3 linked regions of the Homo sapiens genome follow. The protein of the gene in region 2 purifies or fractionates together with the protein of the main gene of each other region. This does not show direct contact. Each region holds a gene or a part of one and is shown on either strand. Other genes may lie near its edges. The genes, in order: HADHA, MAP1B and DNAJA1.

Region 1 (3,754 bases), on a different chromosome or scaffold from region 2:
GAGAAACCTGATAGTTTTGACAAAGTCTTTAAAAAGAATTTTAAGCTTAACAAAAATAGAACTCAGCTAGGGCTGCTTATATGGCATACTAGAAGAAAGGCTTCTAGCAACATTCAAATACCAGCTATAGTTTAAGAAAAAAAAAAGAAGAAAGAAAGAAACTCAGCAAATATTTTTGATACACATATATGCATATTCATTCTTTCAATAAATCCTTATGACATTCCTATGAAGGAAAGCACATTATTATTATTAGAAAATTAACACCATAAACCTTGTTTTCTTTTGTGCTCAATTGAGATCAACTTCCCTGCAAAGAGTATTTCTGTTGAGCCTTGTTTTCACTGAGGAATCTACAGTGCCAGAAGCTATAAGGTTCAGTGGGCCCTTGAGTTGACATTAAGATTGCTCTGCAGCATCCAGGTCTGACTGTCCTTCCCTTCTCCTTGGAATTCAAAGCCTGCTGAGCCTCTTTTGGTTCCATACAACACAGCAGTGAGAACATCCAAATCAGACAATGAGGGAAAAGGTCTGCCTCTTATATTTGTAATGAAATATTAATATGACTCATGGTTTTGAAAAACTGTTAAGATGGTATTATGTGGAAAAGGAACCAATTAAACCATAAGCTCCAGAAATGCAAGACATGCATCTTAGTTATCTTTATCCTTCCTCAGAGACTAACAAAGGACCTTGATCAATAATTCTGTGGAATTAGGCCAGGCATGGTGGTTCATGCCTGTAGTCCTAGCACTTTGGGAGGCTGAGGCGGGAGGATTACCTGAGGTCGGGAGTTCAAGACCAGCCTGGCCAACATGGCGAAACTCCATCTCTACTAAAAAATATAAAAAATTAGCTGGGTGCAGTGGTGCACGCCTGTAATTCCAGCTACTGGGGAGGCTGAGGCAGGAGAATCGCTTGAACCTGGGAGGAGAAGGTTGCAGTGAGCTGAGATCACACCACTGCACTCTAGCCTGGGCTACAGAGCAAGATTTTGTCTCAAAAAAAAAAAAAAAAAAAAATCTGTGGAATTGAAAAAATAAGTACCAGGAATAAAGTCTGTCACTGATCCTGTACACTCATATTTTATTTGGTTTTTTAATTCTACAATGAATGCCCATATTATGCATTTTATACAAGAAAACAGATCTAAAGAGGGCATATAGCTTCACAAAGGGGATGTTAGACTCACCATTTTGGGCAGCCTTTGTGTGCCTCCTGCTCCTGGTAAGGCCCCCAGCAAAACTTCAGGGGTACCTAATACTGTTTTTCTGTCTTTTGTTGCTATTCTGTATTGGCATGAAATGGCAACCTTTGAACAAATGAAAGAAAATTAGAATGTTAGAAAATGTAACTTAGTAGCAACTTGAGATGGATAAGGGTCTAAAGATTATTTATAAAGCAGGAATGTGCTCACAGAATAAACTGAAATTCCTTAGGCTGGCATTTAATAATTTCTAGAATTTACCTTTTTAGCCTTTTTTTCATACTTTTCCTCTAATTTACTAACCTCTTTTTGGGCCGTAGATCTCCTAAAAAATCTACTGAAAGCTAGAGAAGCTCTCAAGAGAAAAATGCACACACAATTTTATATGGACCCCAGGTTAAAAAGCCCCGGACTCTCCAATCAAGCACGTCTACTTACAGTGTCCTAGTTGGCTTTGCTTTTGCCTTTGCTCACACCATACCATATGCGGAATTGTTTTTCCCTCCATATTCTGGTTAATCAAATTCTGCTTATAGTTTAGGACCAGGCACAGGTTTTCTTAATTAATATAGTCATGTGTCACATAATGAGGGGGATATGTTCTGAGAAATGTACCATTAGGAAATTTTGTTGTTGTGTGAACATCGCAGAGTGTACTTACACAAACCCAGATGGCAGAGCCTGCTACACATCTAGGCTATATGGGATAGCCTATTGCTCCTAGTCCAGCAGTCCCCAACCTTTTTGACGCCAGGGACAGGTTTTGTGAAAGGCAATTTTTCCAAGAACTGGGGGTGGGGTGGGAGGGAGTGGTTTCAGGATGAAACTGTTCCACTTCAAATCATCAGGCAATAGAGGCCAATGGAGTGCGCAACCTGGATCCCTCTCATGTGCAGTTCACAACAGGGTTCCAGCTCTTATGAGAATCTAATGCCACTGTTGATATGACAGGAGGCGGAACTCAGGTGGTAATGTTCACTCGCCCACTGCTCACCTCCTGCTGTGGGGCCCAGTTCCTAACAGGCTATGGCCTGGGAACTGGGGACCCCTGTCCTAAGGGGCTACAAACCTGGACTGCATGTGACTATTGAATACTGTAGGCAACTGTGGCACAGTGATAAGCATTTCTGTATCTAAACACAGAAAAGGTATAGAAAAATGTAGTGTTACAGTCTTATAGAACCACTGCTGTATGTGCAATTGGTCATTGAAACGTTATGTGGTAAATGACTGCATATGTGAAAGTGTCTGGCACAGAGTTCAGCATGTGAAAAGTGCTCAATGAATGTTTCCTTTTCCCCTTCTTTTCTTTCCTACATGTTCGGGTCTAGTAAGCATCTCTTCTCTCAAATCTTCTATTATTTACCGTCTTTACTACTGACAAAGCACTTATATTATGCTTTATGTGTCTCAACCAGACTTAAGTAGCTTAAGAGCCTAGATCACACTTCTGAATCTTTGCCCTGCAAACTTGAACAAGATTTTTACAGCTGAAAAGGACATTAGAGATGCAGTTCAAATGAAAACATCACACCTTCATTTACTTGCTTTGTGCCACTTGCTCTGTGTCATGTGGATTAAGGATTAACACCTATCCAGAAGTTTGATAACTAAAAACAAAGCTATTTAGGCACAGTGGCTCACACCTGTAATCCCAGCACTTTGGGAGGCCGAGGCGGGAGGATCACCTGAGGTCAGGAGTTTGAGACCAGCCTGGCCAACATGGTGAAACCCCATCTCTACTAAAAATACAAAAATTAGCTGGGCATGGTGATGCACACCTGTAATCCCAGCTACTGGGGAGGCTGAAGCAGGAGAATTGTTTGAAGCCAGGAGGCAGAGGTTGCAGTGAGCCAAGATCGTGCCATTGCTCTCCAGCCTGGGAGACAAGAGCAAAATTCCGTCTCAAAGCAAAAAACAAAAAACAAAGCGGATTCTCCTCCAGAAACTTTTTCCAGGCAAAGCAGTAGCCTAAGGGTTTACAGCTGATGAATGCCACCAATGAGTTGGACAGTGTCTCAATAACTTTAGAATATCTATACCTCAAGTCCTCCTCCCAGGCAGGATCCATTGATGGCAGCCACAATAGGCTTTGTGGACTTTTCAAGTTTCTCAACTATTCTCTGTGCTTCTTGTGATAGCTGTGTTACTTCTTGAAGGGTCTTGCAAGCGGCTAACATGCTGCATTATCCATAAAAGTAGAGAACAGAGAAAAAGATAAAACTATAATTTATTTGGTTCAATACTTATTCACTATACACTTATCCTATCATGCATCAATATTTGATGACAAATCTTCAAATAGAAGGTTAAGAATGATTTTGCTTCAAATAGCACAATAGCAGCAACATCATTTCTCCATAAAGAGTGTTAAACTTCTGGATCCATGAGACCATCCCGGCTAACACGGTGAAACCCCGTCTCTACTAAAAATACAAAAAATTAGCTGGGCATAGTGGCGGGCGCCTGTAGTCCCAGCTACTTGGGAGGCTGAGGCAGGAGAACAGTGTGAAACCGGGAGGTGGAGCTTGCAGTGAGCCGAGATCG
Region 2 (3,754 bases):
ATCTTTGTATCTTAGTTATCTTTGTTTCCTCAATACATAATCAGGCTCAGTAGATGTTTGTTGATCTGTGTGCCAAACTTGGCCAGTTCAACACATGTTATCTTCCTGGAGTGGGTACTTCAGATGTAACCACACTGAGTGCTACCCTGGTTCTTACAAAGTTGGATGACAGATGCAACAAGGAGGAATATGCTTTGGGACAAAGATAATCTTTTTTGTTAATTACTTTTTCTGATTAAATGCAGGCATACTGGAAGAGGAAGGAAGATGTAAGAAATAAATGGTTTTACTGCAGATGAGATTAATGAAACAAGATTTGAATTTCTAAACCATGGCCTACGAACTACATTTCCTTTTTGATTAGGTTACTTGCTTGGCTGATGAGGAAATACAGTAGACAGTGTATCTCTGGGTTTTAGCCAGACATTTAATAGGACCCCTGAACAGTGTGATAGTAGAATTAGGTGGATTTCCAGCCAGCCATATAAATAGTGCTGCTTAATGTCAACCTGGAGGGAGGTCTATGATGGGCTGCCTCAAGTCTCATTTTCTGGCCTGTATTCACTTGGATAAAAATGGCGAAGGCATGCATATCATATTTGTGCATGGTATGAAAATGGGAGACACAGCAAAATGTGGAATGGCAGAATTAAGGTATTTATAAAAGCTCTTGACATTGGGATGATGGTGGCTAAGTCAATTCTAACAGGATGGCATTCTAAAGGGATAAATGTAAGGTTCAATAAACCAGCAGGGTAAACTACAGGATTGGGAGATGTGGCTTAACAATAATATCCATGGAAAAGACTCAGGGATTTTAGTTGACAGTCAAATGGATTTATCATGAAGCCAAAGAAGCTTAAACTTCAAGGTACCTCATTGGCATGGCCCTGTACTTAACTGTATATTAATAATTGTTTCATTTTTCTTAAAAAAGAGCCCTTAAATTATATAAATTGTCGAGCCCCTCAAAGCCTGCATCTCTTCCCCATTGACTTCCCCATTGACCATTAATGGTGTATGGTGATGGTCAAAAGTCACTTTTAGACTTCTTTAATAGAAGATGGTATTGAAAACTATAGACATTATCAACTCTCACAATCCTAACCTGGTCAAATGACTCCTGAATAGGGTGTCCAGTTTGAGTCATGACATTTTAGAGAAATTAGACCAACAAGCAAAAACCTGAAACAAGTCTCCCTTACTGGCTCCTTCCTCTTGGCCTTATGACCTGTCAACACTGGACCTGGGCCCTTTCTCTTCTTAAAATGTTTCTCACTCTAGGTCACATCATGTGTCTTCTGGGCTTCAAATACCTCTAATATGCTAATGGATTTCAAATTAGTATCTCCAGCCCGACTCTGAGTTCCCTGAGCTCTGTTCTCATAAATCCAACTGTCTGATTTCAAGGCACTAAAACATGACCAGGACTAAACTCCTGAATTCCCCCCATACCCATCCCATCTCCTCTTCTTTTTATTTTATTTTTTTAATGTTTTAAGTATAGTTTTTTTTTTTTTAAGAGACAGAATCTTGCTCTGTTGCCCAGGTTGGAGTGCAGTGCAGATTATAACTGAGTGCAACCTAGAACTCCTAGCCGCACGTGATCCTCCCACTCTGGCCTCCCAAAGTACTGGGATTACAGGCATGGGCCATAGCACCTGGCCTTCACCTCCCTTTCTTGACAGAGGAACAAGTTTGAAGGACAGTGAGCAGGGTTATGAAGAACTGTGGGTAAAACTGAAGATGATTAATCTGAAAGGGAAAAAATCGGCAGTGTTGGTGAAGGGTAACTAAGACACTGTAGGTGGGAAAGGGATCACATCACTTCCTTGAAGATACAATGAGACAAATAAGGAAAAACTTTCCAACACAGAGACTGAAAAATGTCCCCAGGAGATGATGATTTCACCATCCCTGGATTTCAGGGAGGAGTGGGGTTAGCCAGACAATTGTACCGTCTGTTAGTTCTGGTTTTGTTAATTGATCTCCAGTGATTAAGACTCCAAAACCTGAAGCTCAAAGTGTACTGATAGTTCTATTTTTTCAGTCCATTTATTTTTAGCTGTTCTTATATTTTTTAAAAAGTATCATTTTTGTTTGTCCCAAATTGTGGTTTTGGTTTCCCTGGAGTTAACTAGTATGTTTCAAGGACTGGATAAAAGGAAAAGAGCTGGACAACAAGTGGTCTTCAAGGTCCGTTTGTTATTCAGTTACTCAACCATTTTTCCAAGGCAACAATGGGCAATCCTAGCTCCAAAAGGCTGATAACCACTGGTCCAGTCCAGTGGTTTTCAATTCACTTTAGCTGTGGCATCCTTTCTTTGTGGGTGGCAGAAGAGAATATGACATGGTCTCTGACCATAATGATACCTGCCTGAGTATAATCAAAATATGTGTCCTCCAGAACCTACCCCAATAAGTATAAACCCTGGGGAATCTGCCCTTCCACGGAACTCGAGTTCTTCAGTTAGGGCAAATTTTTTTTTCTGTAATTAGTGGCAAAATCTGACACGTGCACAGTCCATGGTGCTAAAATTTTGCTTCCATAATCTAGTAAAAATGATTAAGCAGCAATATTCATAACAACCTTATTTAAAGAAGGGGAAGGAGGGATATTATTTGAGATGCAAATATGCCAAATCGTGTTACTTCCTTATTGAAAATCTTGGCAATGACACTTTTCTTTACATATTTCCTTTGTCTGGTTTTTCGGCAAAAAAGACAAACCAATGACTTGGGTAGAAACCAACCACTAGAAAATAACTACAGAACTGCACAGGAATGTGGAAAGTGCCCATGTGCATGCAAATGAGCTATAAGCAGGCCACTTAACTGCTCACCATGTCATTGGGCCACTTCCAGCCTTCTGCAGCTTTCTCTCTTCCCTGAGGCAAGATGCTAATAATGTGTGTGACCCCAGAGCTACTAGACAAATGCCCACCTGCCTCCGGGTACAACATGCACATGGGGACATAATCTTGCAAAACATTCTGACATTATAGTGATCAAACAACAACTTCAGGACAGTAGGCAGAGTGAGAATTGTAGCCCTAGCTTTGGAATTTCAATGCAATTGAACAGCGGCTTACTAGGCCTTTACTATGTGCAGGTGCAATGGATACCGAGATGAATGAGGCAAGATGCGTGAACTCTAGCGGCCTTGGAAGAAGACACAGCCAAAGCTTGCATTTTGAAGTGGTAAAGATGAACCAACTGTGAGTGAGCTCTGAAGCCTCTGAGAAAGGAGCTGCCTGCCTGGGGGATCCCATCCTGGTATGTGTTTCAAGATGCAGATGACGCCACACCTTCTGACAGCTGTGGCTTCAAAAATGTTCCTTTTCACAGTTTTACATTCTCCCCACCCCAGTGGCTGGAGAGTGAACATTATTATGCCTTCTGATCAGTGTTTTTAAAGAAGCCTCCAGGTGACTCAGATGAAGTTGGGCAGTGTGCTTACAGTTCTTGCCAGTGATGAAAAGTACAAACAGAGCTTTCTCTGAACCTCAGGGCCAAGGAAAATTAAGTGCAGAAGGACACGTGGCCCTTCACAGTACACATGAGACAGACAAGCCACCACCTCAGAAAGACAGTTTTAAACAGATGTGGGGACTCTTCTTATCAGAACATCCCTCAGTCCCTCCATGTAGAAATCTGCTATCGGCCACAGGCAGGCCCCAACCTGCTATGGGGATGGGTCTGAATTGTTTCTGTAATTGCTATAAACATGTAAGCTAGATAAACAAGGTGCATT
Region 3 (3,754 bases), on a different chromosome or scaffold from region 2:
TGGGAGTAAGTTAAAGTTCAGAAACCTAAAACTTCTTCAAGCTCATATAGCAAGCCAACAGAGCCAGGGCTGAAAACTGGTTCGTTGCCTGCCATCTATCTATTCTTGTTTCAGCTTTATTGTGTCAAAATTATGTATTTAATATGTTTATCAGGAAAGTGGCCTATGGGCTCTAGAAATACTGCTTATAGGAGTAAAATGTTCAAGAGAAATCAGTCTCACTTTATTTCCAGTATAGTGTATACAAATAAGGGCTGATGAGCAGAACCAGTTTTAGAATGAATGGCCAAGCCATTAAATTTCACTTTGAGCTTCTTAAGGTTCAGAAAGATTTGGGAAATTGTTTATTCAGTTTTTCTTTAAAGATCTTCAAGGAAAGGATTATGTTTTTATTAAGATACTTAAACTCCTTAAAAAGAAAGTCCACAATCCAAATGACTTGCTTAGTAAATTGTTAGAATTTGTCCACAAAAAAGTAGTGGTGGTTTTTCACTTACCTTACAAAGAACCTGCAGGTTAACATTGGCAAGCTCTTTTATGTGGCTTATGATCATATTGAGAGGTTATTTCTGGGGAAATGCGCTTCATCAAGCTCTAGAAGCTTTATTTTTCCTTCCTTATACTCAACACTGTTCAAAATAAGGGCAGCTAGATTTTAGCGTGCCAAAACTAAAGGTGGAACTATAAGCAGAAGGACATAATTAATGGTATTTCATGCTTGATTAGAAAGTTAAAATGTTCATTAGGCATATTGTACAGAAACGAGTTTGAGAACTTTTTTCAGTTGGTGGAAAGGCAATAATATTGTTGTGAATAAGTCCTTGTGGAAGGACCACTAGTTAGGAACTTACTAACTTACTAGCAGGTGACTTCATACTTCTAACCTCAGTGTCCTTATGAGATCTTGACCTTCCATTTCCTATTCTGATTTAAGTGAAGTAAGGCACTCCTTAGTAGCCACTGGCCATGTGTGGCTCCATTAATTTAAGACAAAAACAAAAATACGGTTTCTTAGTCTAAATGGCCACATTTACATGCTCAATAAGCACATGTGATTGGTGGCTGCTACGTTGGACAGAACAGATATAAAACATTTATCACTGCAGAAAGTTCTGTTGGGCAATGCTATTATAAAAGGTATGAGAAATTTGGCCTTCAAAACAACCAGTGCTGGCCCAGCAGTAAATGGGCTGTTTTCTACTAAATCAGGAAGAAGTAGAAATTGATACTCTTCTGTGGTGACTCAATAAATACATCAGCTTCCCTGGCCAATCTTGATTAATGAGAATTTACTGTGCTACAGAATTTTTGGATGAAGTAATTGGCCATGTTGCTCAATACGGTACGAAGTGAAAGCTTCAAAAAATATATTGTGACAGAAATGAATGTTTGGATTATTGTGAAATGTGCCCTTTTAAATAACATTGGTTTTTCTCAAGTGACTTTGAAGGTAATGCTTTTGCTTACCATATTTCCAAGATGGCCACGTCTGTGCCCTTAAGCAAATATTTAATCTCTGACCTGATTTTCCCTCATCTGTGATTACATCACAGTTTGAGGATCATCTGTGATAACGTGAACATTCTGTGTATATAGTAGGTAGTCAACAGATGTACCCTGTGAGGCTCATCTTTTATTATTCTTTGCCACATTCTTTATAGTGCCTTTAGCACAAATAAGATCCAGCATCTTAAACAGATTTGCAATGAGAAATATTTTGTTTTAGGTAAAAATGTTGTACATCAGCTCTCAGTAACCCTAGAAGACTTATATAATGGTGCAACAAGAAAACTGGCTCTGCAAAAGAATGTGATTTGTGACAAATGTGAAGGTACGGTGTTTTTTTGTTTTGTTTTGTTTTGTTTTTAAGCACCTTTAATATGACACCTGAAAATGGAGCTAAGACTTCTAGATAGATATGTAAAATTGATTCATGTACACTACCTAGATTTTGGGGGAGGAGAGGGCAGATATGAAGAAAACCAACTGAAAACCTCCCACCTAAAGAAATATCAGCACTTTTTTCTGTGTATATTTTAAATACAGTTGGGATCAAGCTAGTTTGGTATCTTTTTTGTAATAAGTAAAATTTATTGGAAAGTGTGTTCTAATAAGAATGAAACTCATTGGAATGATCTCATCAGTTGTACATTCAGAGGGTAGCATTCCATCAGGCTTCGAAAATATTAAAAGTATAGCATTTAGGAATTGTCTTCTTAAAACATTTACTACTGTATACACTACTAATTCATACATTATTTAATTTTCTTTTTAAATTTAGGTAGAGGAGGTAAGAAAGGAGCAGTAGAGTGCTGTCCCAATTGCCGAGGTACTGGAATGCAAATAAGAATTCATCAGATAGGACCTGGAATGGTTCAGCAAATTCAGTCTGTGTGCATGGAGTGCCAGGGCCATGGGGAGCGGATCAGTCCTAAAGATAGATGTAAAAGCTGCAACGGAAGGAAGATAGTTCGAGAGAAGAAAATTTTAGAAGTTCATATTGACAAAGGTGAGTTCTGAGTTACTTATTCTGAAGTCTTGAATGCTGTGGCAGATTTATTATTAACATTTTATAATTGTTTAAAAATCATTCTTAATTAGGTTATATATGATCCTATCAATCAGAAATAACTCTTAGCAGCTTAGTAAATAATGTTCTTTTATCCAGACATAATTTTGCACATTGGTATATTACTAATACAGAATATATTAGGAATCTCCTCATTTAATATAACAGGATCATCTTTTGAAATCTGTGGTCCTGTAAATGATTGAATAGTGTTCCAAACTTAATTCTCTCCTGTTAAACCATAGTTCTTCCATCTTTTAAAACATTAGAATTGTACACATTCTTAATTAGGAGTTACTAGATCAAGGGATAGGCATACTTTTAAGGATTTGAAAGGGGAGTTAGGTGAAGAATTGGGTCTCATAAAAATTCATGGTTTTTTTGGAGACGGAGTTTCGCTCTTGTTTCCCAGGCTGGAGTGTGCAATGGCACGATCTCAGCTCATTGCAACCTCTGCCTCCCGGGTTCAAGCAGTTCTTCTGCCTCAGCCTCCCAAGTACCTGGGATTACAGGCACCCAGCACCATGCCCGGCTAATGTTTTGTATTTTTAGTAGAGACGGGGTTTCACCATGTTGGCCAGGCTGATCTCGAACACTTGACCTCAGGTGATGACCTGCCTCGGCCTCCCAAAGTGCTGGGATTACAGGCATGAGCTACCGCACCCCGCCTCATGTTTATTTTTTAAACCAATGGGCATGTTTTTGTTTGTTTGTTTTTTTCTGAGGTAGAGTCTTGCTCTGTTGCCCAGGCTTGAGTGCAGTGATGCGATCTTGGCTCACTCTAACCTCTGCCTCCTGGGTTCAAGCGATTCTCCTGCCCCAGCTTCCCAGGTAGCTGGGACTACAGGTGTGCACCACCACACCTGGCTAATTTTTTTTGTATTTTTAGTAGAGATGGGGTTTCACCATGTTAGGCTGGTCTCAAACTCTTGACCTCAAATGATCTGCCTGCCTTGGCCTCCTAAAATGCTGGGATTACAGGTGTGTGCCACCATACCTGGCCTGGGCTAGTTTAAATAAGCGTATTGGCCCACTTAATTGGCTTACTTGCCCATCTATTATATTTAAATGCTCCGTTAATTGATTTGATAGACTACCTTTCATTTTTTTAGACTTGACACTTCCCTAACCCATTGGGCTCCAGATTTAGAAATAACTATATAACCTTTTTTTTGTATTCTCGGG

What was found.
Region 1: the proteins of MAP1B (region 2) and HADHA purify together in Homo sapiens (affinity purification with mass spectrometry; 2 studies listed by BioGRID, with this or other methods). This does not show direct contact.
Region 3: the proteins of MAP1B (region 2) and DNAJA1 purify together in Homo sapiens (affinity purification with mass spectrometry; 2 studies listed by BioGRID, with this or other methods). This does not show direct contact.

The regions. Positions count from the first base shown.
Region 1 is NC_000002.12:26,230,968-26,234,721, forward strand, and holds part of HADHA (trifunctional enzyme subunit alpha, mitochondrial precursor), read right to left. Parts: intron 3,389-3,754; coding exon 3,250-3,388; intron 1,313-3,249; coding exon 1,193-1,312; intron 1-1,192. UniProt on the Homo sapiens protein: Mitochondrial trifunctional enzyme catalyzes the last three of the four reactions of the mitochondrial beta-oxidation pathway.
Region 2 is NC_000005.10:72,187,461-72,191,214, reverse strand, and holds part of MAP1B (microtubule-associated protein 1B), read right to left. Parts: intron 1-3,754. UniProt on the Homo sapiens protein: Facilitates tyrosination of alpha-tubulin in neuronal microtubules. Phosphorylated MAP1B is required for proper microtubule dynamics and plays a role in the cytoskeletal changes that accompany neuronal differentiation and neurite extension.
Region 3 is NC_000009.12:33,028,159-33,031,912, forward strand, and holds part of DNAJA1 (dnaJ homolog subfamily A member 1), read left to right. Parts: intron 1-1,726; coding exon 1,727-1,831; intron 1,832-2,281; coding exon 2,282-2,509; intron 2,510-3,754.